Linked DNA regions of Homo sapiens: region 2 is linked to region 1. The links come from fine-mapping of genetic effects on gene expression. A gene starts in region 1. The other region holds a variant in brackets. All regions are shown on one strand. Distances are from middle to middle.

The links.
Region 2: its variant is fine-mapped to the expression of TRPC7 in testis (GTEx, PIP 0.90).

The regions. Positions count from the first base shown.
Region 1 is chr5:136,359,400-136,372,252 of GRCh38, reverse strand. It overlaps TRPC7 (transient receptor potential cation channel subfamily C member 7), which reads left to right and starts at 6,708. Exons shown (of 12, transcript NM_020389.3): 1 at 6,708-7,000. The coding sequence starts at 6,999.
Region 2 is chr5:136,245,407-136,258,259 of GRCh38, reverse strand. TRPC7 (transient receptor potential cation channel subfamily C member 7) reads left to right here. Exons shown (of 12, transcript NM_020389.3): 6 at 6,378-6,611; 7 at 10,525-10,789. The region is part of intron 1 of TRPC7-AS2 (TRPC7 antisense RNA 2); the gene reads right to left. Among named protein-coding and RNA genes, the nearest start is that of TRPC7-AS2, 25 kb to the right of the region's middle. RefSeq lists a silencer at 6,673-6,873 and an enhancer at 6,556-7,056. The variant C/G (reference allele first, on the strand shown) is at 6,957.

The DNA of each region.
Region 1 (12,853 bases):
ATGTTCCTATTAATTTCTCCCTTCCCCTAACTGCTAGCAACCACTGATATTTTTACTATCTGCATAGCTCTCCCCTTTCCAGAATGTCATATAGTTGGAATCATACAGTATACAGCCTTTTCAGATTGGCCTTTTCATTTAGTAATACATATTTATGGTGTGGAATTACAACTTTTTATCAGAATGACATCCTCAGCCTGCCAGTCATCCTTTCCTGATTTTTCTACAGGCACAAACTGAATAATATCCTAGTCAGTTGCCTCTTTTTGTCCCTAGGGATGCTATATTCTATTAACCATTTTCATAACTCTGAGAGTCATGTTTCCTTACCCTCCAATCTTGCTCGTCATTACAATAATTGCAACAGTCTGGTTTAGGATGTTCAAGCACCTCCACCTGGCCTCTATTTTTTCAGGGTTCTCTGATGCCCATTGTTACCAGTGAGTAAGTTCTGTAACAGACTATCCCACCATCAACCTTGGCTTAAAGAGAACCATGAATGAAAATTTCAGTGATCCTGGTGGACATTTAGTCAGTGCATTTATGATGCCTTTGGTAAAAAGATGTGTCCTCTGGGCCCCATGAACATGATCACCTCAGGGACCTTCTAGCCAAACGGGATATATTGATTCTAGCATCCTCACATCTATAAACTTTTCATTTCTTTCCTTCATCTTTTGCCATGAAAATTATGTCACTCCAGCTTTGTGTGATGTGAACTATTCCTTTTTTATGTTTCCAGAGACCATTCTAGGAGTAAGTTCACACCATCCCCCAGAACCGTGCCAAGATGTGAAATCCTACAATTGAAGAGAACATTACCAAGTCAATAAACTCTTCACCATCTAATTTGTATTACAGGGCCCCTTGGTCAAGCATCCTCAGAATCCCATTCCAAATATACTCCCCTGGCTTTTTCCAATACATGTTGGCTAGTTCCTATAGCATTTTTGGGAAATTGTCCCTTTCCTGACTTAATCAGGTTTAGAACATCCTCTGCTATATTATGGCTCTATGGATATTAATGTCAACTCAGACCCTGAGTACAACTTAACCTTAGTTACAGGCCTTGTGGGCAGGAAGGAATGTAGTATAGACTCTGGGCAGGCATGTGTACCTCATGGGGGTGAGACCTATATAATGTATTCCACGAGGTGACAGCTGCTAGCTTTTAATATGGATGGATGGACCATGTCTTCAGGCTCAGAGGGTTCAGATGTACAGTTGACCCTTGAACAACACAGATTCTAACTATGTGGGTCCACTTATATGTATTATAGATTTTCTTCAACAAAACATAGCTCAAAAATACAGTATTCAGAGGATGTGAAGCCCACATATATGAAGGGCTGACTTCCTATATGCAGATTCCATGGAGATGACTGCAGGATTTGAGTACGAACAGATTTTGTATATTTGGGGGTCTTAAAACCAATCACTCTAGTGATTGAGGGTCAACTGGGAGACAAAATTTTCTGAGACATCATGTAGATATCTCTATCTCTTTAGAGTTCTGGACTTTCTTAAACATGGTGATAATCTGACATGACAGACCATCCTTAGATGGCCATTTGGTTATCTGTGAAATTCAGTCACTCTGAATATGATTTCTCAGGCTGAGACTTTGACTTTCTATATTCTCCCAACAGAGTTTTTAAGAGCTTCTTTGCAACCAAGATGTCCTCCAGCTTTTACACCTGGAATTCTATTGCCTATTACGCATCTTCAGCTACTCATCTTTCTGCCGAATATCGGTGGCATTTAATGATAGCTATCCAAAGCCATTGTGCTTGTCATTATTATTTCTCTGGTGAGTTTCAAATGCATATTTTCCACTTACCAATGCATTCTCTTCCACAAGCATAACATCCCAATTCACCACAGGTGAAAACTTAAATGGACCATCACCTTGTTTCATGGGCCATCTGTGCTCCATTTATGACCAGTGATAGGGTCAGCGCCAACTACATGGTGGCAATCCAGCTCAAACATCCCATTTTATCACCTAGTTGCTCAATCCATTCCTGATATCAATTAATACAGGTTAGGTTTTCCAGAAGTAGACACTGATATAGAGTTTAAGGTGAAAAATATTCATTAAGGTTCAACATTTTTAAAAGGAAAAGGGAGGAAGCAGTATTGGGGAGAGGAAGAAATCAAGCTATGATAATGTGGGCAATATAGCAGCAAGCCCTGGAAAGAGTATTGCACGTAAGCATGTTCCTGAAATGGTCTGTATTCTCTCACCTTGCTCAGTCACAAAATACAGTCTATCCTGCAAAGGGTGTGGCCCTGGGAAAGGTGGCTCTTTGTACCTGAGGCACACCCTGAAGGATATGGCAGCTGGAGGCTATCCACTGACTGCCATTCCTGCACACTTCTTTCATTGAAGGAGGATTTCCATTCTGACCACACCATCTTAAATCTTTTTTTAAAGGCAGAATACAAATGTCTTAGTCTGTTTTCTGCTGCTGTAATAGAATACCACAGACTAGGTAATCTATAAAGAAAAGAGATTTATTTGGCTAATAATTCTGAAGGCTGTGAAGTCCAAGATCAAGGGCCACATCTGGTGAGGGATTTTTTTACTGTGTCATAACAGGGCAGAAGGCACCACATGCAAAGGATTGTCCCTTGGTGAAAGGCAAAAGAGTAAGCTCAAGAGACAGAGAAGGAAGCTGGACTCCCCCAGTAACCCACTCCCAGCATAAAGGTGTTAATCCATTTATGAAGGTGAAGCTCTCGTAAATGAATCACCTCTTAAAGGTCCCACCTCTTAATACTATTACAATGATAATTAAATTTCAACATGAGTTTTGGAGGAGACATTTAAACAATAGCAATCAATAAATATTTCATATGGGTTTCAGTTTGCTTTTGTAAGAAACCTTTAATAGGTTACAAGCCAATTATAGCTTACATAAATCCTGTAAAAGCATAACCATTGAAATCTGCAGTTATAGCCCAAACTGAAAGATGAATAATTTTTCATAAAACACATAAATAGGAATAGAATTAAATTGGCATCATTCTTATCATCACTTTGAGACATAGTGCTATTTCCAGTCACTCCCTGTTTGTAAATAAAAACACAATTTTTCATTACTTGAGAACAGTCTACAGCACAAAATTTTTCCCCAGATTTTGTGCTCACTCTAAAGAAGATTTACGGTGATGCTGTCATTAATCAAAATGAGAGAGATCTACTTTTTAAGTGGGTTCAGTATAGTGGCTTCTAGCAATTTCAGCCAGAATTTTTCTATGGAAACTGATTTACATTAATTCCTTAAATCTAATGCCTAAGAAGTCTGCTCAATATATTTCTATCTAGGAGAAAGAGCCAGACCTGACTAATAACCACACAAAGTTGCATAGACTTAAGGAACATTCTGAGAGGGGAGAAAAGGGAGAATGAGTCTCCCAAAAGATTCATTTATTTGAAATAAACCTTCATATTCATGGCTTTGGTTTCTAAAACGACCTAGTCATTCAATAGACAATAACAGTGTTTCCCAAAAGTGTGATTTATGAATCATCTGCATCAGAATCACTTTAGGTTCTTAAGGAGATAAAGTGCTTATTTTTCTAGGGAACGAGAAATTTGTATGTTTATATTTTTAACAGGCTAGTTAGGCGATACTGGAGCACACAAAGTCTGAGAACCACAGATCAATAGTATGTTCACTGTTCAGTCACAGGGTGAGTTGTTAAGCAATAGTGAAAGCTGACATAGGCTGAGCTCTATGTGCCAGGCTCTGCTGTAAGCTCTTCATGTGTGTTGTCTCATTTTATCTTCGCTATAATTCTACAAGTGAGAAACTGTTGTTACTTTCATCTCACAGGTGATAAAACTTAGGGACACACTTGGGGAATAGGAAATTTGGAATTAAAACAGAAAATTTTACTAGAAGCTGTACACACTCTTAACCACTAAATTCTACTGTGAGCCTATGTTGGGTTGAGACTGGGAGATGCAAAACTCAAGTCCTTATGCAGGAAATTTAGACATCCTCTAGTCCAAAAGCTGAGCACCTTCTGAACTTTCACTGTTGATAGTGAAGTCCTAATTACTTCTGTGTTTTATATATTGAAAATGATAATTTGATATGGATGCAACATTTTTTCAGATTACAAGTATTTGCCCCATTGAACCAAATATCTGTGTATGATATGCTCTGGAAATGATAAAGTACTCCAATTATAAGGATCCCGAAGATTGGATCCTTTGCAAAATGTCATCTTATCACTTTTGAAGAGCTGTCTGGCCTGACTCTGACTTGTCTTCAATTAATGAATACATCTATAAAACAATTAACTCATTTCTTTTCTCTCTCATACATATATATATGTGTGTGTGTATGAGAGATATAAAATATATATATATATATACATTTGACTGTCATACCATCATTGGCACAACTTTCTGAAATATGGTTTAATTTTTTAATGAGCTTATCAATACTGAAAACAAGGACATTATTCATGTCAGAGTTTTATGAAAATACACTCTTGGCTGTTTATTAAAAACAGAATATAATGAGACTTCAATTCCGTCATTAACTAAAAGCCATAAACCAGTATTCTTTTAAAAGTATTGTATAATTAAGAGTTATCTCATTCTACACTACTTCACTAATCATGATGATGAGGATCCCAATCAAAAGGATATTATCACTTGTCAGAGATAATCTTCTAACTTTGTGGTTGTGTAAGACACTTTTATTGGCTTCACATTTATATTTTGTTCCACTTCATTGCAATACTAAAGAGCTCTTAATTCATTAGCATTTTATTCAAATGCATTAAATCTACTTGTTTCTGATTCTAATAAAAAATAAAATTTCTGTATCCTTCAAGCCTGTAATTTTTTTAAGAAAGCCTTGATATTAGAAAATTTCTTTTTAGAATGGTATTTTATCCAATGAAACATAATTATTAATATTGTAAAACTTGCGTGGAGGCTTATAAGAATAAAATGCATTTGTTGCCAGTCTTTTTGGAGGGTTTTGTTGTTGTTGTTGTTTGTTTGCTTGCTTTTCAAGACAGGATTTCACTCTGTCACCCAGGCTGGAGTGCAGTGGCATGATCTCAGCTCACTGCAACCTCAGCCTCCTGGGTTCAAGTGATCCTTATTCCTCAGCCTCCCAAGTAGCTGGGACTACAGGTTCACACTACCATGCCCACAACTAGAGAACTACCTTAACTTCTATTGAGCAAGCAGAGGAGAAAGAACATTCAAACTGGGTCGAGTATTGTGGCTTATGCCTGTAATCCCACCCCTTTGTGAGGTCGAGGCAGGAGGATAGCTTTAGCCCAGGATTTCGACACCAGCCTAGGCAACATAGTGGGACAAGGTCTCTACTAAAAAATTAAAAATTAGCCAGGTCTGATGGTATGTGCCTGTATTCCCAGCCACTGTGGAGGGTGAGGCAAGAGGATCACTTGAGCCTGGGAGGTCAAGGCTACAGTGATCCGTGATTGTACCACTGTGAGACCCTGTCTCAAATTTTTAAAAAATTAAAACGAACTTTCAAACTTATCATGCACACCTTAAATGCCAGCTCTTTGGAGTTATTTGTACATGATTTTTCAATTAATTATCACCACGACAATTGGTAAAAGGCATTATAAACCCTATTATTACCAACCATTCACATATGAGAAGACTGAGATTCAATAGGTTAAGTGTTATGTCTAAGGTCACACAGTTAATAAGTGAATCAAAATCCCAAGGTCTTTTCCCACATATCATGTTATCTTCAGAGAAAATACTAGTAGCATATTAACAAACCAATGCAATCTCATTTGGATGTAAAACTAGAATGGTCATGTGTACAATACATTATAAGCAACTCCTTAGCCCTAAGTATTGCAAGTGCACACAGCAACAGTTTTACAGAGTGTCAGTTATTAAGCTGTGAGTTGATTTCAGAAAATAACCACTCTGATTTATTGGTAAGTAACCCAGGTAGATTGTAGAAGCAACTGTGGTTTTTCATACACAGGCAATATTTCAGTTAAGACGGTTTCTTTCCAATGATGTCATTAAAGTACCTCAGTGTTTAAGAATCATAGACCATTTGGTTACATAGCAATTGGTGAGCGTGGGAACTGTTGGGGAAATGGTATTTTGGATTGAGAATTTCGTTTCAAAAAATGGAAAGTTGCAAATGAAAGCTAACCCTTTTAGTCTTGTTACTAATGTGAGACTTGTTCTACACCACTGACCTCTTCCTGATCCTAGATAATGCTAAAAGATCATGAACCAAAATAGTAAAGTTGGAAGATACATCACTCACAGAAGACAAAGTGTGGTGTGGTGATGAGACTTACGGAAGAAAACTACTTCTATCGCTCTTTAGGCTTCTCTGGTTTTAGTTTTCTTCTTAACCCCCTCCCTCTGTAAACACACAGACACAACAGGTAGGAAACCAGCTCATTCCTCATTCCTCATTCCTCATTTGTTTAAACCAATGAATATTCTGCCTCAGAAGTCAGAACATGCTGCCTTATATAACGAGGTGTGTGTGTGTGTGTGTGTGTGTGTGTGTGTGTGTGTGTGTGTGATGTACTATTCTGGGGCAGAGGAAAGGGCAGGTAGAAATCCTGAGGAGCTATGGCAGGAAGAAAGAGTTGCTACCTCCCTTTCAAGCTACGTCGGGGAGAGGGGGTGGGGACTATACCAACCCATCACCACGCCGCATGCCACTCTCACACAGATGCTTCTCCGTCATGTTCTCTGGGAAATTTCCCCCCGATTAGGAAAAGGACGGTAACACGGTTCTGCCTCGGAAGGCGAGTTTTTACCACTGCAACACAAAGAACAGAGGAGCGCGCTTTCACATCGTTGCAACTTAACTCACTTGACCAGCTCTATACTTCAGCACCACGGAGAGCGGTACATCCTTGGCTACCACCCATGGGGAGCCAGCTTCTGGCGACTCAACACCGGATTCCGGTCATCTAGAGGAGGAACAAGCCTGCGTATTACACCCTCAATGTAAGCAGCTATGATGGTTCTTTCATATTGATTTTTTTTTCCAGTAGAGGTTGTGTTCTCGCTAAAATATGTAATTGAACTTTCATTTATCAGCCTTCTTCCTCTAGTGCACTGCTTAGATTTTTAGATGGATCTGAGATCTTTCTTATTTGTTGAGTTGGTAGAAGAAATTTTTTTTTTCTTTTATAGAATGTCTAAGTTTTCAAAGCCATTTAGAAACGGACAACTCATGTCGGTAGCCTATTCCTTTTGTGCTAGAGTAATATAGTTTTATTCCTAGATGAGTGTATAGGTGTTGTCTCTTCTTTCCCTTCACTACTGACAGCTTTCTAATGTATTTATGTGGTTGTATTTATCATAATATAAATATAGGGGTGAGAGAAGGGAGAGGGTTATATTCTAATAAGTAGCCACTGTTAAAGAACTACAGGTGGCAAGAAAGAGATTGTCATTTTTCTTTTCTTCTTGTTGAAAATATGGTCTGAGCTATGTATCTCCTTTAGACATCCATTTCAAAATAACAAATATGCTCCTAATGAAAGAGGTGTAATCTAGGCAGAGCTTTGAAACTCTCATAATCTCCCCTTTAAGTTTGAAGTTGTAAATTCATTTACCTATGATTGAGTAGACACAACCAAAATGCTATTGCTATTAATTATAATTTAGAGGCGTAATGGATTCAGGGTAGACTCAGAAAAGGCAATAATGATTGACCCTGTCTGGTGGCACTCAGTGAATTTTTGCCTCAGAATGCCACCTGCTGGTGGGTCTTATTTCTGAAGCACCGAGTACACATCAAATTTATGAATGAATTCACATTAAATCCAGAATATTCATTATGGATGTGATGCAAACCCAATCTCCAAGATCTTTTTAACAATGACATTGATTCAATTATTTAAAAGCTTACCAAACTTCTATGTCACAATTACCCTTTCATAAATATTTATTTCCAAAAACACTTGCTCCTAAACTTAGGTGCATGTAGACTAGATAACTCCTTTAGGCAGTAATTAACCCAGAAAAAAATCAGAACTATGTGGAGCCTCATTGAGGCTAATTGCAGAATGCATGCGGTATCTTGGATGAGAGCTACCAGGAGCTCTTGCTTAGTAAAGGCAATCAACATTTCCCTCCATATAAATATTAAGCATGTTACTTTTTTTCAGTATTGTCATTTCATAATATAAGGGCCTCTCTTTCTTTCTCAGTAGTAGATGTTTATTTCAGACTCTTATCATAGAGGTCAGTGAAATCATCAAAAGGTTACACATATCTATTTTATTTCAAGAAAAATCTTTTTTAAAAATAAAGCTATCAAAACTTGTTTCAGCTCCACCTGGAGCTATACACAATGAGATATAGACATCCAGTTTCATAACTTCCAACTTCCAAATAGGAAAATAAGGATTTTAAAAGTAAAAAGAAAAATAGAAGCACATACAAAGCACTAGTTATATTTGGATAGGTGGTACCTAGGACAGTTTGAAAAAACTGAGGATAACTTCTTCTCTAAATGATGTTACTTGGTAGAAAATAAATTACTAATAGAAACACTTATTAACATTCAGGAACACTAGATAATATTTTTATTCCAAGATGCAATGGAAAAACCATCCCACATTAGTAGAATTATTTGGAAAGTATATCTTAATATAAAACATTTTAATGAGTAAAAGAAGGATACTTTGCTTGTTTCCTGTAGGATTTAACTGGTGAAATGTATGAACTCGTGTATACCTTGGGGTAGTTAGGTATATATCTTTTTTTTCTTTTATTTAAAGTATATATGTTGTACAAGCAAATTATTATCAGTAGCTTAGATGGGAACTTAAATGCCTTAAACCCACAATTAATATATTTGTAATAAGTTAAATAGAGCTAATAATATCCAATTTCACTAGAGCACTTACAAGGCAATGATAAATAGTTTACGTTCACTATCTCACCTCAATTTCAACAGAAAAAGGAAGGTGATACTTAGAAATAAGTTGGATGCCTTGGGAAATATGTAAAAATTTTCAGGAGTAGTGTGAAGAAGTGAGAATGTCTCAATTTTCTGCTCAGTCACCAAGGGACATCATATGCCCTCTGATATTAGCTGCTTCATCTAGCAACTTATGGGCCATAATTTATAGTGGAGCTAATTAGAAACTGATTTTACTTAGGAATTCATACCTTATTTTAAATGTTGCCAGTCATAAGTAGGAAATAACAGTCATAGAATTATATGGCTCCTGCATTTTGTGAGAAGGAAGATGCTGGTAAACACCAACAGCTCCAGTGTACTGATCTTCTTAAATGATCAACCCAGATTCAAATATTTAGGAATGAATTAAGTTGATTGACCAAGCACCATATGCAAGGCATCAGGAGTACAGGGCACCAGGTGCATATGCCATATACACGAGTATTCCCTACCCTCAAGGATCTTGAACTCTAATGGAAAAAGTTATAGCCTAAAGAAACTCAGAAAAACAAAAAACAAAACAAAACAAAAAAACAGAAAGACAAAAAGAAGATGGCTGGCAGTGGCATACTAGCCAAAAGCACAAACTTTCAAAGCAGACAGACTAGATCCTTAATAGTGAGTCCACCACTGACACATTGTGTAGCTTCGGAAAAGTGGTTAATTAATTTGACCATCACTTCATCATCTGTTAAATGGGAATGACAATAGCACCTAAACCATGTAATAGTTTGTGAGAACTTAAAATGATAATGCATGTTCTCAAATGTGTCATGTTCGCTATACATTTCTAATCATTTTTGCTTAATGATTTATGTACTTACCTCCTTTTTTATATGTTTATATTTACAATTCATTCATCATTACATTGCCATTTGTCTTTACAGGCTGGCTTTATTGTGTTGAGTATCTATAATGTTAAATTTCTCTTTATATCTTATTTGAAAAATAAATGAATAAATAAATATAAATGACAATGTACATAAATTACTCAGCATGGTGGCTGGCACATGGTTAATGTGAAACAAATGTTAGTCACTATGATTAAATAGTCATTCAGGAAAATAGCTAACCTTATCAGAAGATAATTTATTTAAAACAGTAATTTATGTAAAGCACTTAGGACAGTGTCTACATGGTAAATGTGTAATATATGTTAAATATAACTATTGTATAGTCATTTAGAAAAATAGCTAAGCTGAGTATATCAATGTACAGTAAAATGTGAGACAATTCTAATAATTGTGTACCTAAGTGCATTGATAGGTAAGATTTTGATCATTATTGTCATGAACATTTGTATAAAGTGTTATGGTATCCAGGGCATTTGGTAGACATTATTTAATCCTCACTGTGCTCCTGAGGAACATGAGGAATGGGCTTTATTACTCCCTTTATTTTGGCAAGAGAACTGTGGTTTAGGAGAAGACTCCAAATGACTATTTCATCACTGTTGCTCTAGACTAATACTCAGAATATGTACTCTTGGGAGAAGATGCACAGATCAAAGCTGAGTTTTCCTGGGTGTTTGATCTGACTCCTAGATTCTGTTTGGTTCTATATCCAGTTGGGGAATATTACAGGCTGAATTGATTTTAAGCTTGGATAATTTCCATAGAGAATTTTGATGCATGTAGCATTTTAGAAAAGAGACAACAAATATCTCTAAAAAAACATTTTGATTAAGTGGCCTTTTCTTCTTCAGTAATTAACCACAATTTCTGTCTCCAAAAGGCTTTATGGCCATGCTCATCTGCAGCTGGACTTAGGGCACAAGATTTATACTTTTCATGGGTCAATGACATCTGGCTTCCTTCAGACTGGCTGATGCATCTGTAAGAGCAGCTTGATAAAAATAACAACTGAAGGATCAAGAGGGAGTTTAATAATCAGTCCTCCTCTCATATATGGTTTTGTTTCCGCTGGAATCCTTCTTCCAAATGACATCAAATGTTAATTGTATGCATTTCTGGAAAATGTAAAACAAAGTGTCTTAATTGGGGTATTTAATCACACATTATCTCAATAATATGTGCAAATAAAAATGTATTTGCATTCAAAGTTCATTTTTAAGAAAAATACTAAAATAAGGGCAATCAAATGCCAATTGCATTTTAGGGAGATTCATTTTGCTTATCATTGGCCCTAAAACTGTGATAAGATCTCCAGAGTTCATCAGGGCAGCACATCTGATTCATGAGTGTAAGCTTTGGCCACCAACTATTGAGAGACATGTGACTTTATCTTTCTGACACAGCATCTTTTGTGGATTCTTTCCAACCCGTGTGATATGTATAGCTAAAACATGAATATCTGTGATATCAAAATTAAATAGCAAGGATATGGTGGCTGAATATATTCACAAGTGCATAAATGTCTAAAAAGTATCATTAGAGGGATATTAGGGTAAGAGGGAGTCAGAGCTAATAAAAAGGCCACAGTGAGGTTAAAAGGCCTCCATCAATATCTGCATCAATTCTCATGGCTTCATAGTCTATTGTGAAGCCCCTCGCATTGGAAGCAATTTCACTGAGTAGCACATGCCATTATCTGCTTATATGCATACATGACTCTAAGGCTCATAAGATTTCATTTTTAATGCTAAATTCTGCTAGGAAAGGAACAGAATTGATGATTTTGTGAGCATCCAAATGTTTTTCAAGGCTGAGGTTTTAAAGGCTGCGAAAGAGTCTTGTTTATTTCTTACTACATCTGGGTGTCTGCTTTCAAGGTCATTCAGAAAAATGCTTGTCAAATGGTGAGGACATTTTAACGTCTGCCAAGTACTAGCTATACACATATTTTTTTTGATAAAACATAATTATTGTAGAAACATCAAGATTTATATGATGCCCTACCCTTGTGCAGAAATTATTTGTCCAAAGTCTTAGGACTTAAGATTTAGTCTTTTCACTTGACCTACCAGAGTTTCTTCACCTAAAAGATGAGAATGCTAATACTTTGCTTTTTATGTTTTGTTTTGTTTTGTTTTGTTTTGTAATGAGTGGAATTAACAAACAATGCTTGAATATCCTTTAAGTTTGTAGGCTGCAGTGTCTATGATATTCACAGGGACTCTGAATTTAGATTGAGTACTTACGTGTTCCTTGTGAAATATTTCTCTGCTATGACTTGGTTCAGTAGTCATTAAATTTCCTTTGAGTTAATCTCTCCATGGCTTGTTGCTGTGTAATAGTTGGGTACCCTTGACCTTGTAGTCTGACCTATTCTCCCTCTTGAGCAGACCTCTAATGGAAAAGTGCCGTGGAATCAAGCTGTATTGCAGCTTCTTCTCGGACAGCTGCTGTTTCGTATCTGACACACTGCTCAGATGCTCTTGAGTGTAAACTGCTTTTTCTCAGGTTGAGTTGTGATGGCTAAGAATAAAAAAAAGTGTTTCTGAGAGAAGTAGAAGCCTATTGTAGGACAGGCTGAGTACTTCCATGAAAAAGATTATTATTAGTCTTCTTTGGGCTCATCTTCTACCTGTGTGTGTGTGTGTGTGTGTGCCCAGATGACAGGCCTTGAAACTGAGTTCATTACATCTCCTGAAACAAAGCCTCTTGGGAATACAAATAGGGTAACTGCTTAGCTTTCGACTCAGTAACTTTCTCTTTCTGAAAACCCTATAATAATAAGTGCCTGCACACTATTTGTGAATCTTTCTCTCCTGTAAAGGTTTTTCTGGGACTCCTAATCCACAGTCTGCCTTTGGTACCATTGAGCAGACTGTCTCTGGAATGATGGCATTGTTGAAAGGAATGGGCTCAGAAGGATCTCATGAATTTGAATTCTGACAGTCTTTTCCCCAGCAATCTTTTATCAAAGTGCACTTTAAAAAAGTGGATGGTGGTTCAGACGCTCTTCCTAAAGGTGTACAGAGC
Region 2 (12,853 bases), 110 kb after region 1:
TTTTACTTATGGCCCTGGAATAATTTAAATTCATCTGGGTGAATTAATATTTAAATCTAAGAAGACTCATGCAGACATTTGACCATGGAGGAAGTGATTCCCAATGTCCAATGAGAAGCTACTATATGGGTCAGAAAAGTTAGTTTTCTGAAAATAATTTGCATTTCAGATTCATAGAGCTTTTAGTACTTGAAGTTACCTCCAAACTCCAAATTCATTCATTTCAAAATATAGAATCTAAGACCCACAGCAAATCAAGGGACTTAGCCACAGTCATACTGCTAATAGGTAGCCAAGCTAGAACTTGAACCCAGGGCTTCCTGAATTAAAGCCAATCACTCTTAAGTTACAGCCTGTGACTCTCCTAGTGCCATGCTAAAAGCAGTTCCACTCAGATGTTGAGATTTTTAATTTGGGGGTAGAGGAAAGCAACAAACACTATTTTTCTATCCATTAAAAAATTTATTTTTAAAATCCATTTAAAAAATACCGGTTGCACAGTCACAGATGAAAGTGTATTTCAGTGTTAAGAAATTACTTCACTGAATTACCACAAAAATTTTGATACGGTATACTTGAGACATAGCTTTGTTAACAAAAAAGGAGGGGGCTGGTTCTGCCCTACCATTGTAGGGTAAACCTACCTGCAATTTTTTTTAATATTTCCTATTGTGGGGATTCCAATTTGATACAAATATGCAGATCTTCATTAAATAAAGCCATGATTCTTCTCCAAACAGCTGCTCTCAAATTACTTTTCTCCTTAGGAAAACATTTCAGGCCGGAAGTGGTGGCTCATGCCTGCAATCCCAGCACTTTGGGAGGCCGAGGTGGGAGGATCACGAGGTCAGGAGTTTGAGACCAGCCTGGCCAATATGGTGAAACCTCGTCTCTACTAAAAATACAAAAATTAGCCAGGTGTGGTGGCGTGTGCCTGTAGTCCCAGCTACTCGGGACGCTGAGGCAGAAGAATCGCTTGAACCCAGGAGGTGGGGGTTGCAGTGAGCTGAGATCGCACCACTGCACTCCAGCCTGGGCGACAGAGTGAGACTCCATCGCAAAAAAAAAAAAAAAGAAAGAAAAACATTTTAAATCCTTTTATTTCATGGGCCATTTTCAACAGAAAGGGAAATTTTCTGATTAAAATAGTCCCTGGGCATAGTCCCAGACAAGTAAAACTGATCAGCTCATCACTCGAATGTGCCCACATGTGGGCCTGTGAGCAAGTCAGCCAGGCTCTGACCAGGGAAGAGCCCTCATTACTGTCTACTCCCAGCATCATCTATGACACCAGGCTTTTTCAGCATCTGGACCCCCAAAGGCGATTGTTATCATGTAGGCATCTGTGAGTGTGCTTGGGTTAATGTCTGGGAAAAAGAAAGGAAGAAACACAAGCAAATGGTTGGGTGGAACTGCTGGAGGACTGTTAGGTGGGCCTGCTTTGCTAGAGTACAGGGTGTATAAAAACTGTGGAATATCATAGGAATGACAGCCTAGCTTTGGAGTCTAGACTTTATCTTGGTATTATGAGAAATACACCACAGGTATCTGAAGACAGAAGTGACCATGATATGACCCAAACTTTATGAGGTCAGAGAATAGAGTTGAAGACTAAAAGAGCAAGATGGATCTGACATCCACTAGAGGAGGATCTGCAGAACTGCAGTGATCCTTGGTGACAGCCAGAAGAGTCAGGGGTGCAAGAGTGGGAATACTGGGTAAGGATATGACACAGTGAGGGTGGGAGGGATGGGGAGGCCAGCTTGAGGGATGTAATATTGGCACTGGAAAGACATCCACTAACCCACTAACAGTAGTCTCTCTCTATGGGGGGAATTCAGCTTTGAAGTTCTTAAGGAAAATTAGGAAGATATTCATCTGTGAGACATATGCAAGGAAATGAAGGACAAAGTTTCAGGGCTAGATGCACTAACTTGAGGTCAGAGGGAAGAATGGGAACGGCCAAAAACCTGGAAAGCTGCAGCCCTTAAGGAGTGGGCAGAGTTAGAAAAGCAGCAAAGAAAACTGAGGAGGAGCAATGGGAGGGGCAGGAGGTACCAAAGAAAGCAGGCCATCATGTCTGATGAACAGGGCCGAGGGACTGCCAAAAGAGGCTATCGGTGTTAGCCTCTAGGGAGTGTGTGGTCACTGAGCTGGAATTGTTTCACTCACTGACCAGCTGGTGATTCTTTTACCACGTGAATCCCTCTAAATATACAGGTTAAGTGTAGCATTGTTCCACAACAAAGCTCTCCCAGGTCTGAGTAGTCGTAAGACTCTTTGATGACATAAAATGTTCAAGAGTCTTTTCTAACTGATTTGAGCCCAATTTTATTTCCTGGAGAGACAGAAGAGTATAGCAGTCAAGAACATGAACTCTAGGGGCAGACCTTCTGGGTTCAAATTCCAGATCTCCTGCTTCCTAGCAGGGCACATTACAACCATCTGAGCCACTGTCTCATTAGCTGTAAAAATAGGATAATAACAGAACGTACTTTATAGGATTGTTGCAAGGATTTAAGATAATACATATACACATATGGCAGTGCCTAGCACATAGTAGGTGCTCAAATTGAAACTGAATAGTTACATTTTAATACAGGCATATCTCAAGGATATTGCAAGTTCAGTTTCAGACCACTACAACAAAACAAGTATCCCAACAAAGAAAGTCCCAGGAAATTTTTGGTTTCCCAGTGCAGAGAAAAGTTGCATTTACACTATACTGTGGTCTATTAAACGTGCAACAGCATCATGTCTAAAAAAAGTGAGAACCATAATTTTAAAATTACTCTATTGCTAGAAAATGCTAACAATCATCTGAGCCTTCAACAAGGCATAATCTTTTTGCTGGTGGAGGGTCTTGGCTCAATGTTGATGGCCACTGACTGATCAGAATGGTAGTTGTTGAAGGTTAAAGTGGCCGTGGCAATTTCTTAAGACAATAAAGTTTACTGCATCAATTAACTTTTCCTTTCACTAAAGATCTCTCTGTAGCATGCAATGCAGTTTCATAGCATTTGACCCAAAGTAGAACTTCTTTCAAAATTAAACTCAATACCCTCAAGCCTTGCTGCTGCTTTGTCAACTAAGTTTACAGAATATTTTAAATCCTTTGTCATCATTTTAACAATGTTCACGGCATCTTCACCAGTAGACTCTGAAGAAACTATTTTCTTTGCTCATCCATAAGAAACAATTCCTCATCCATTGAAGTTTTATCATGAAATTGCAGCAATTTAGTCACATCTTAGGCCCTACTTCTAATTCTAGTTCTCTTATTTCCATCACATCTGCAGTAACTTCCTCTACTAAAGTCTTGAACCCCTCAAAGTTATCCGTGAAGGTTTGAATCAACTTCTTCCATTTAATGTTGATATTCTGACCTCCTACCATGATTCTCTAATGTTCTGAATGGCATCTAAAACGATAAATCCTTTCCAGTAGGTTTCAATTTACTTTGCCCAGATCCATCAGAAGAATAATCATATATGGCAGCTATGGCCTTATGATACGTATTTTTTAAAATAATAAGACTTGAAAGTCAAAATTACTCCTTGATCCACAGGCTGCAAAATGGATACTATGTTAACAGGCATGAGAACAATGCTAATCTCCTGTATATCTCGATCAGAGCTCTTAAGTGACCACATGCATTGTCCATGAGCAGTAATATTGTGAAAGAAATATATTTTTTCTGAGCAGTAAGTCTCAACAGTGGGCTTAAAATATTCAGTATACCATGCTGTAAACAGATACGCTGTCATCCAGGCTTTTTTGTTTCACTTATAGAGCACAGGAAGAGTCAATTTAGCATAATTCTTAAGGGCCCTAGGTTTGGAATGGTACATGAACACTGGCTTCAACTTAAAGTCACCAGCCGCAGTAGTCCCTAACAAGAGAGTCAGCCTGCCCTACACAGCTTTGAAACCAGGCACTGATGTCTACTCTATAGCTCTGAAAGTTCTAAATGGCATCTTCTTTCAAGATAAAGCTGTTTAATCTACATCAAAAATCCGTGGTTTACTGTAGCCACTGTTATCAATTATCTTAGCTAGATCTTCTGATAACTTGTTGCAGCTTCTGCATCAGCACTTGGTGCTTCACCTTGTACTTTTATGTTATGGAGATGGCTTCTTTCCTCAAACCTTATGAACGAACCTCTGCTAGCTTCAAACTTTTCTTTGGCAGCTTCCTCACCTCTCTCAGACTTCATAGAATTAAAGAGAGTGAGGGTCTTCCTCTGGTTTGGGCACTGGCTTAAGGGAATGCCATAGCTGGTTTAATCAATCACTCATGAGTTCACTGGAGTAGTACTTTTAATTTCCTTCAGTAACTTGTTCTTTGCATTCAGAACTTAGATGTCTGGCACAAAAGGCCTAGCTTTTGGCCTATCTCAGCTTTTGATACACATTCCTCACTAACCTTAATCATTTGTAGCTTTTGATTTAAAGTGAGAAATGCAATGCAACTCTTCCTTTCACTTAAAAGCTTAGAAACCATTGTAGAACTATTAATTGGCCTAATATCAATATTGTTGAAATACTGGGAATAGGAGGCCCGAGGGGAGGGAAAGACAGGGAAACAGCAGGTCAGTGGAGCAGTCAGAACACACAAAACATTTATTGATTAAGTTTGCCATCTTATATGGGAGTGGTTCATGATACCCCCAATCAGTTACAATAGTAACATCAAAGATCACAAAGACCACTGGTCACAGACCAACCATAATGAATATAATAATGAAAAGGTTTGAAATATTGTGAGAATTACCAAAATATGACATAGAGACCAAAAGTGAGCACGTTATTGGGAAAATGGTATCAATAGACTTTCCCAACACAAGGTTGCCACAAACCTTTAATTTGAAAAAAACACAGTCTCTGTGAAGCACAATAAAGCAAAGTGCAATAAAACAAGGTATGCCGGTAATTTAAAATAATTTAAATAGTAATAATTTAGTAATCAGTAAATGTGAAGGTATAGAATAGCATTATTCAATAGAAATACAGGGCAAGCAACAACCATGAGCTATATAATTTTAAATGTTCTAAAAGCCATATTATAAAGACAAATAGGTGAAATTAACAACATACTTAACCTATCATATCCAAAATATTAATCACTGCAACATGTAACTGATGCAAAAAATTATTAATGAGATACTTTACATTCTTTTTTCATAGTAAGTGTTTGAAATCTGGTGTGTACCTTACATTTACAGCACATCTCAAACTAGACACATTTCAAGTGCTCAGTATCCACATATGATTGGTGGCTATGGTATTGGACAGTACAGGTCTAGAAGGATACTCATCAACTATTAGCTCAGGCTACCTCACAGGGATGGCTTAGAGCAGCGGTCCCCAACCCCTGGGCCGCCAACTGGTACCAGTCTGTGGCCTGTTAGGAATCGAGCTGAACAGCAGGAGGTAAGCGGTGGGCAAGCCAGCATTACTTCCTGAGCTCCAGCTCCTGTCAGATCAGCAGCGGCATTAGATTCTCATAGGAGCCTAAACCCTATTGTAAATTATGCATGTGAGGGATCTAGGTTGCCATCCTATGAGAATCTCATGGCTGATGATCTGAGGTGGAACAGTTTCATCTGGAAACTATCCCACCCTCCACCCCCACTCCAACCCCACCCTGTGTTAAATTGTCTTCCATGAAACTGGTCCCTGGTGCCAAAAGGGCTGCTGGCTTAGAGGAAGGCTGGGGAAACTAGTAACATTTTGTTTATATACTTCTATATTGTTTAGTATGTAACAATGAGGACATATATCTTTAAAATCCAATAAGTTATGAAAGAGTAAGAAAAAATCTAATAACCCTAAATTAATGCTCATGACACAGAAATACAGAAGCATTCTAATCTGGGATTTAAAAACAAAACAAAACAAAACAAAAAACTGGGTTCTATGTCCAAAAAAAACCATAGTTCTAGGTTCTTGGGGCATTTCTGTAGAATTTGGGGCATGGAGTGGGGGGACCTTCAGAAAGCCCTTTACAATTCCTGGACCTCAGTTTCCCTATATTTAATTTAGGACTAATTGATTCTTTAAGTTCTTAAAGTTCTTAAAGTGTATAAATGTCAGCAACTGTATTTCTCCTATATTCCCTCCAAGAATCTATCAACGAATGAAAACTCTCTCCTCACTTGCAGAGACAGTGTGTTCGTAAGCACAAGGCCAAGTCTCTGAGTCTCCTGGGTCTAAATCTGCCTTTGAAAACACGTTTCTGTCTGCCTCTGGCTATCGACGGTCCCAGCTCCAAAGAGCTGATATTTACATTTGTACTCTGGTTCCCTCCATGACCTCATGCGGTCACAAATGCCAAGAGAAACGAAAAGTGAGCCTGGCCTTCTCCTTCTCCCACAGGAATGATTTGGTCCGAATGCAAGGAAATCTGGGAGGAGGGGCCACGGGAGTACGTGCTGCACTTGTGGAACCTGCTAGATTTCGGGATGCTGTCCATCTTCGTGGCCTCCTTCACAGCACGCTTCATGGCCTTCCTGAAGGCCACGGAGGCACAGCTGTACGTGGACCAGCACGTGCAGGACGACACGCTGCACAATGTCTCGCTTCCGCCGGAAGTGGCATACTTCACCTACGGTGAGTCGGAGAGTGCTTCCCCTACTCCATTTTGGCGCTTCCGGGACGTGGGCCTGGTGCTTCACTGTGGCTGGTGAACTTGTAACGCTATTTGTAATCAAGTGGCCCATGATTTGTAACACAGCCGACTTTGGCAGTTCCACTGTCAGTGCAGAGCATCCTTTCCACCTCAAAAAAACCCTTGGTCCTGGAAGTGTAGCCAGCAGAATAGAACGTGGAATTAGTGACTTTGAGAAATGAATCTTTTTGTGTTAAGGGTGAATTTGTTTCTGAAAGGCCCTTGGGAACATTTCTGTAGTTTGTTTGTTTTTAAGAAACGTCTTGTTTCTGATGTGCATCCAGGAG[C/G]GCTAAAGGGATATGTATATGCGGAAGAATTTTCCTTCTATATTGGATCCCTGTGTTTTGTGCAAAAATAAATCCTGCTTTCCTAGTTATTGCTTGGTGGCAAGATACATTCTTAGAAGATACCTTAATTACCTTAATTCTTGCAAAATGCAAAGGCTTACAGTTTGATGTAGTAGATTGAGACTTTAGGAATACTAATAATAGTTATAACATATGTTTATTGAGAACCTACTATGTGCCAGGAATTGTGTAGACATTTTATACACACAATTCTAATTCTTGCAAATAGCCCGGCAAAAAAGGGTCCTTCTTTTGTCCCTATTTTAAACATGAAGAATCAGGTTTTTATAGCAGGGCTTATAATGTTTCCAGAAAATACAGGATTGCCTTGTATAGCAGGGAATCCTGGCCTGACATGATTTGAAAATCATGCTGAATAGCATAGTGGTTATGTCCCCAAGCTTTGGAGTAGAAGAGACCTGGATTCAAATCCTAGTTCGGTAGTTTACTGTGAGATCTTGTTTACTTAACTTTTCTGAGCTCTTTTTTCTCATATGTAAAACAGAGATAATAATACCTACATCAAAAAGTTTGTTTTGAGGGCTGAATAAAATAGTGTATGTGAAGCGCTTTGCACTCTGCTGTGAAAATAGTAAATGCTCACTTAATGGTAGCAGCTATTATCTGCTTACTTATTTTAAAATAAGTTATGTCTTACTACTACCTTTTGGGTCATTTTCTTGTTCAAACACTGTAATTTCTGTACTGAAACAGAAAGATGTTGAAAGTTGAAGGAACAGTAGATACTTGTTAACAGTAAAAAGCAGCTGGACACTTAGTAGGCAATTGCTAATGGTAGCTACAACATCTTGAAGGGATTGAGTGTTGAATGTCCCTGTTACATGAAGCCAGATGGCTCCGGGACCACAGAATCTTTATGGTAAGATACAACAATGATTCTGTGGTCAGGTACAACAATGATCTGCAGAGGGTTGTTCGCTTAACGCAAAAGTTGAGTAACTGCCCGTTTTCAGTGTAGATTATGTTACATGTAAATGTGGTAGGGAAATCTCCATTGAGAAATGGAGAGTCTTGTAGTATTACAAGTCATCCACCCACCCACCCTCTGCCATTTTGGGGTTTGGCAAATTCAGACTTTCTTAAAGCAAAATAGCTTGGATATTATCCTCTGTCTTGTTAGGGTTCATCAAGGAAGGAAGAGAGAATATTGATGCTGCATTATGTACTTTTCTTAATGCCAGGATTCAGGCTGCAGTATTGTCCACTTCTGACTTCTGTTGCTTTATGGGTTGTATTAAGGTCTCACCCAACCCAAAGCATAGTACGTTATTGCTCTTGTATTTGCGGTTCACGCTGTGCCCTTGGAAATCCTTTGGATTTCTGGCTTAACTTGTGCTCCAGTTACAGGGCAGGAGAGCCCTCTTGTGGCCAGCTGGACGGTGGCTCCTTCCAACCTCTACAGCACCAAATGCGCAGATAACAATTTTTCAGGTTGTGATAGGGCAATTTTTCTCTTGGAAATAGCTCTAAGGAGAAAACCCCTTTGTCCAAATCATCACAGTGCTGTTCATTCTACACTCATCACAACTCTTTACAAGTCAGTTGAAATATAATATTTTTCAATATAAGTCCTGACCTAGTCACCAGGATCTGACAACAGCTAAATCTATCTGAGTAGATTATAAGAGTGTCTTGTTATTGTGACTGAGGTTTAAGATGGTGAGCTAGAGGCCGCAGAAAAAAAGAATTCCTTTTTGCCTTCTGTTTAACGGGAGAAGTTATGTCTTATTTTATCTTATCCAAATATTTATCCATAGAAGATGACAGATATATTGGAAAACATGTAATTTATTCTGCTTACTAGTCTTTCATGGTTTTTTGAGGTATGACCTTGATGAGAACATAGAATCTGTAATGTTATTATATTTCCAAATGCAATTTAGAATCACTCCATGAAACTTTGTGGCCTGGCTTCCTTTACTAAAGGTTTCTTACTGCTCTCTATTATTATAATTATTTAACAGAGTCTAGTTTTGAAAATAAAGAATAAAAGCCTTCCTCTTCAATCTCCCTTGGAATGCCACGAATTGCTATGTAATATCCTTGCTATCTGCATTTACCGGTCTCTGAAAAGGACCCCATACCCTAAATCCAATCTTAAAAATGGCAATAATGATATCTACTCTACAGGGCTGTTGTGAAAATTACAGCTAATGTAAGTGTAAGTGCTAATTTAGGTTTCTCAATGCTTCTCAATTAATATTTCACTCAGCATTTCTCAATAGGGACACTATTAGCTTTTCCAGCAGGGCAGTTTTCATTGTACAGATCTGTCTGGAGCATTGCAGGACATTAGCATCCCAGTAGTACTCCTATTCAGTCACTTTGACAACCAGAGACACCGCCACACATCCTCCATGAGAGAAGTGCTGCCCTCACTTGAGAATCACTGACATGTAATAGACAGCTGATTCGTGATAGGTGCTGCTCCTTGTACCATTAGAACTGCAATAGGAACACTTTGCAGGTTTGCTCTGCAGCAGAAATACCCATAGGAGAGCTCAGGCCCTTGTGGTCACAGTGACCACAAGCAGAGCCTTCCCAGCTCAGGATCAGTCCTAGGACCCTTGCCTACCTGGAACAGGGCTGTCGTGGCAAACCTGCCTGACTGGTCACCACTTTGGGGCCTTAGCTTAATCAAGGAGCAATATCCCAGCACACAGTACCTGAGGAACAAAACCCAAGAGTATTTTTTCAGGCAAGATCCTTTAGATTCCTGGTCCCCATGTGAGCTTATTTGTTCTGACCTGTGTCTGGTCTAAACTTGTGGTTAAAAGTCTATTCAGTCATTTGACAAACACTTATCTGTACCTGCTGTGTGCCAGACCCTGTGCTGAGCACTTTACATGTATGATTTCATTTCATCCTCTCCACAGTCCTGTGAAATGGATATTATCCATAATTTAGAGAGGAGGAAAATAAAGCTCAAAAGGTTAGTTAGTTGTCTCTCAGAGTCATGTGGCCAGTAGGTGGATGGGCCACATTCAGCCTCAGGGATGTCTGACTCCCAAGTCCATGCTCTTGCCCATCTTATTCCTCGCGCTGCCTCCCCAGTGAGTGGGACAGCTCCTGAGCATGGAGCTAAACACTGGTGAGGGAGACAGAATAGCAAGTGGCCTGGTGAGTGCCAAGACATGGAGGGTGTACAGGATACAATGAGAGCACAGACGGAAACTGGGAACCTGCCCAGCCCGTGGTGGGGGTAAGGGGGATCACAGAAGGCTTCCTGAAAGAGGTGATGCCTGAGCAGAGTCTTAGAGGAGGATTAGGAATGAATCATACTTCGAAGTGAGAGAAGAGTGTTCCAGGCAGATGGTCCAGCACATTCCAAGAGGGAGGGTGGCAACTTCTGGATATTGGGATTAATTTAAGGACAAGGACAAGAATGGCAAATGATGCAGTTGGAGACCTCTAAAGATGCCTAACTGGTTTCTCTTCTAGAATAGATCCTGTGGCCTCGTGAGTAACCCAGATTGTTTTCTTTTAGCCAGGGACAAGTGGTGGCCTTCAGACCCTCAGATCATATCGGAAGGGCTCTACGCGATAGCCGTCGTGCTGAGCTTCTCTCGCATTGCATACATTCTGCCAGCCAACGAGAGTTTTGGGCCCCTGCAGATCTCGCTAGGGAGAACTGTGAAAGATATCTTCAAGTTCATGGTCATTTTCATCATGGTATTTGTGGCCTTCATGATTGGGATGTTCAACCTGTACTCTTACTACCGAGGTGCCAAATACAACCCAGCGTTTACAACGTGAGTATCTGAGAGCTTTCCCCTGAGGTTCTCCCTGGGCTTCCTGGGAATCCTTGGGAGTCTCCTGAAGGTGGCTTCTTGCAGAGACTGCTGTTTCCTTGCTATCTCTCAAGGTTAAAGGCAACTTTATTCAAGGGTGGTTTAGAGTTCAGGTTCTGGAGTTGAACAGATGAGTTGAGTTAAATCCTCACTTTGCCACTTACATTTCGTGTGACCAGAGCATGTTCCCATTTAGAAAAAAAAAAATCACATGTAGGAATGCTACGTTTTCTAGGATTTGACATTCTCAGCAATCAGGAATTATTTCATAAATGGAAATTTCATAAATGGAAAGACCACTACTAAAAACAGAATGCCATTAATATAATGTTGTCTTTTGTTTCCAAAGTTGATAGACTAGAGTGATGTGAAAATAATAATAAAAGCGAGATATTTTGTGGTGGTAAACTTTGGGGGTAAAGTTAGGACTGCAATCCATGAGTTATCTCAGGGTAAACAATGCAGCAGCAAGCATGCTGGCGAGTATTCTTGGGGCCAAGGGGAAATGGGTTAACATCTCTGATACTTCATTTTCTTGTTTTTAAAATGGTGATAATAATAGTACCTTCTTCATAGAGATTGTGCAAGGATTCAGTGAGATGATGTAACTCACGTAGTAAACTCAATATGTGGTAAAAAAAATTATTCTTACTGTTATTATTGTCTTAGCCTGTGTTGCCTAGAAAACAGAACTCTGGGTAAAAGTTGCATGCTAACACTTTATTAGAGTGAGGGAGTTGCAATCTAAGGGAAATAAAACTGAAGGAAAAAGGAAAGTGAAGAATGGGAAGAGGGGAAGCAAGTACAAAGTGCTGCTGCATGAGAGGTGTGTGAAGTGAAGATGGGGAAAGCAAATCCAGGCAGCTCCCTGGCCACTGCCCACCAGAATACACAGCATGGGCATGATGGACCTCTCCAGGGGGACTATCTGGAAAGACCACATCTCAGAATAGCCCATCAGGCTGAGAATAGAGAATTTATCATCCAGATCAGTCCCATCTGCTGTCTCTCATTAGTCACTCCATAGGACGTTAACTCACCTACACTTCCAGGGAAGCCCTGGGGAAGCCATATCCACACAGCATGGGAGGCAGGTCTGCGAGTGGTTGCAGGTCACTGCTCTCCATGCCTGGCTGGGCAAGCCAGGTCTTGTGTGTGGACACCCAGCAAGTCCTGCAGCATCATGTGCCTCTGCAGCAGGAAGGAAAGCCCATGTGAGAGAGGCAGGAGGCATGCAGCCTGAGCATGAGGCAAGACACTGAAATTGGGGTCCAGAAGTAGCTGCTAGGGGTGCTCCAGAAAGCAGGCAGAGTAACACAATGGCATGCACATCCCCCACCGTGGAAGTGGTGATGGAGCTCTCTAAGCCTGTGTCCACAAAGATCCAAAGCTCCTCCCCTGGGGATGGGCACGGGGCAGGATGCCAGATAGTCTCCTGGAGGGCCAGCCATCGGTAGCACCGAGAAGGGTCTAGTGGAAGAGTGTGGAAGACCTGAATATACTTCCTGACACAGGCATATACTGGCCGGTGAACTTAAGTCATTTGATTTATCTGAGCCTCTGTGTCCTCGTCTATAAAATGAAAATAAGGTTTCCCACCTTATTCACAAATACCTTTATGGATAAATGAGGATGTTTACATAAAGTGCCTGAAACACAGAAGTGTTTCCAGTCCATGTCCTGCCCCAGACCCACTCAGTTCCAGAACTTCTCCTTGCCTTCACCAAGCTCTTGGCCAAAGTCTTGAAAGGAGGATAGTCAGGTTTTCAGCCTTGTGGAATCCCAGCACAGCAGCCAGGATCAATGGGGCTAAGCACTTCCTGACACTTGTCCCCAGGAAGCCCTGAGTGGCCTAGAATGTCAGTTTTCCAGCTAGTAGAAATGGCTCTGATCCCTGCCCCTCAGACTCCCTGAGCAATTTCCAGGTTGCAGCAGGGCCTCATCTTACTCTTCTGGAGAAATCACCCATTAAGGTAAGATACTTGTCTCTGAGAACCAAGTACAATGAATTCTGTGCCACTTAGC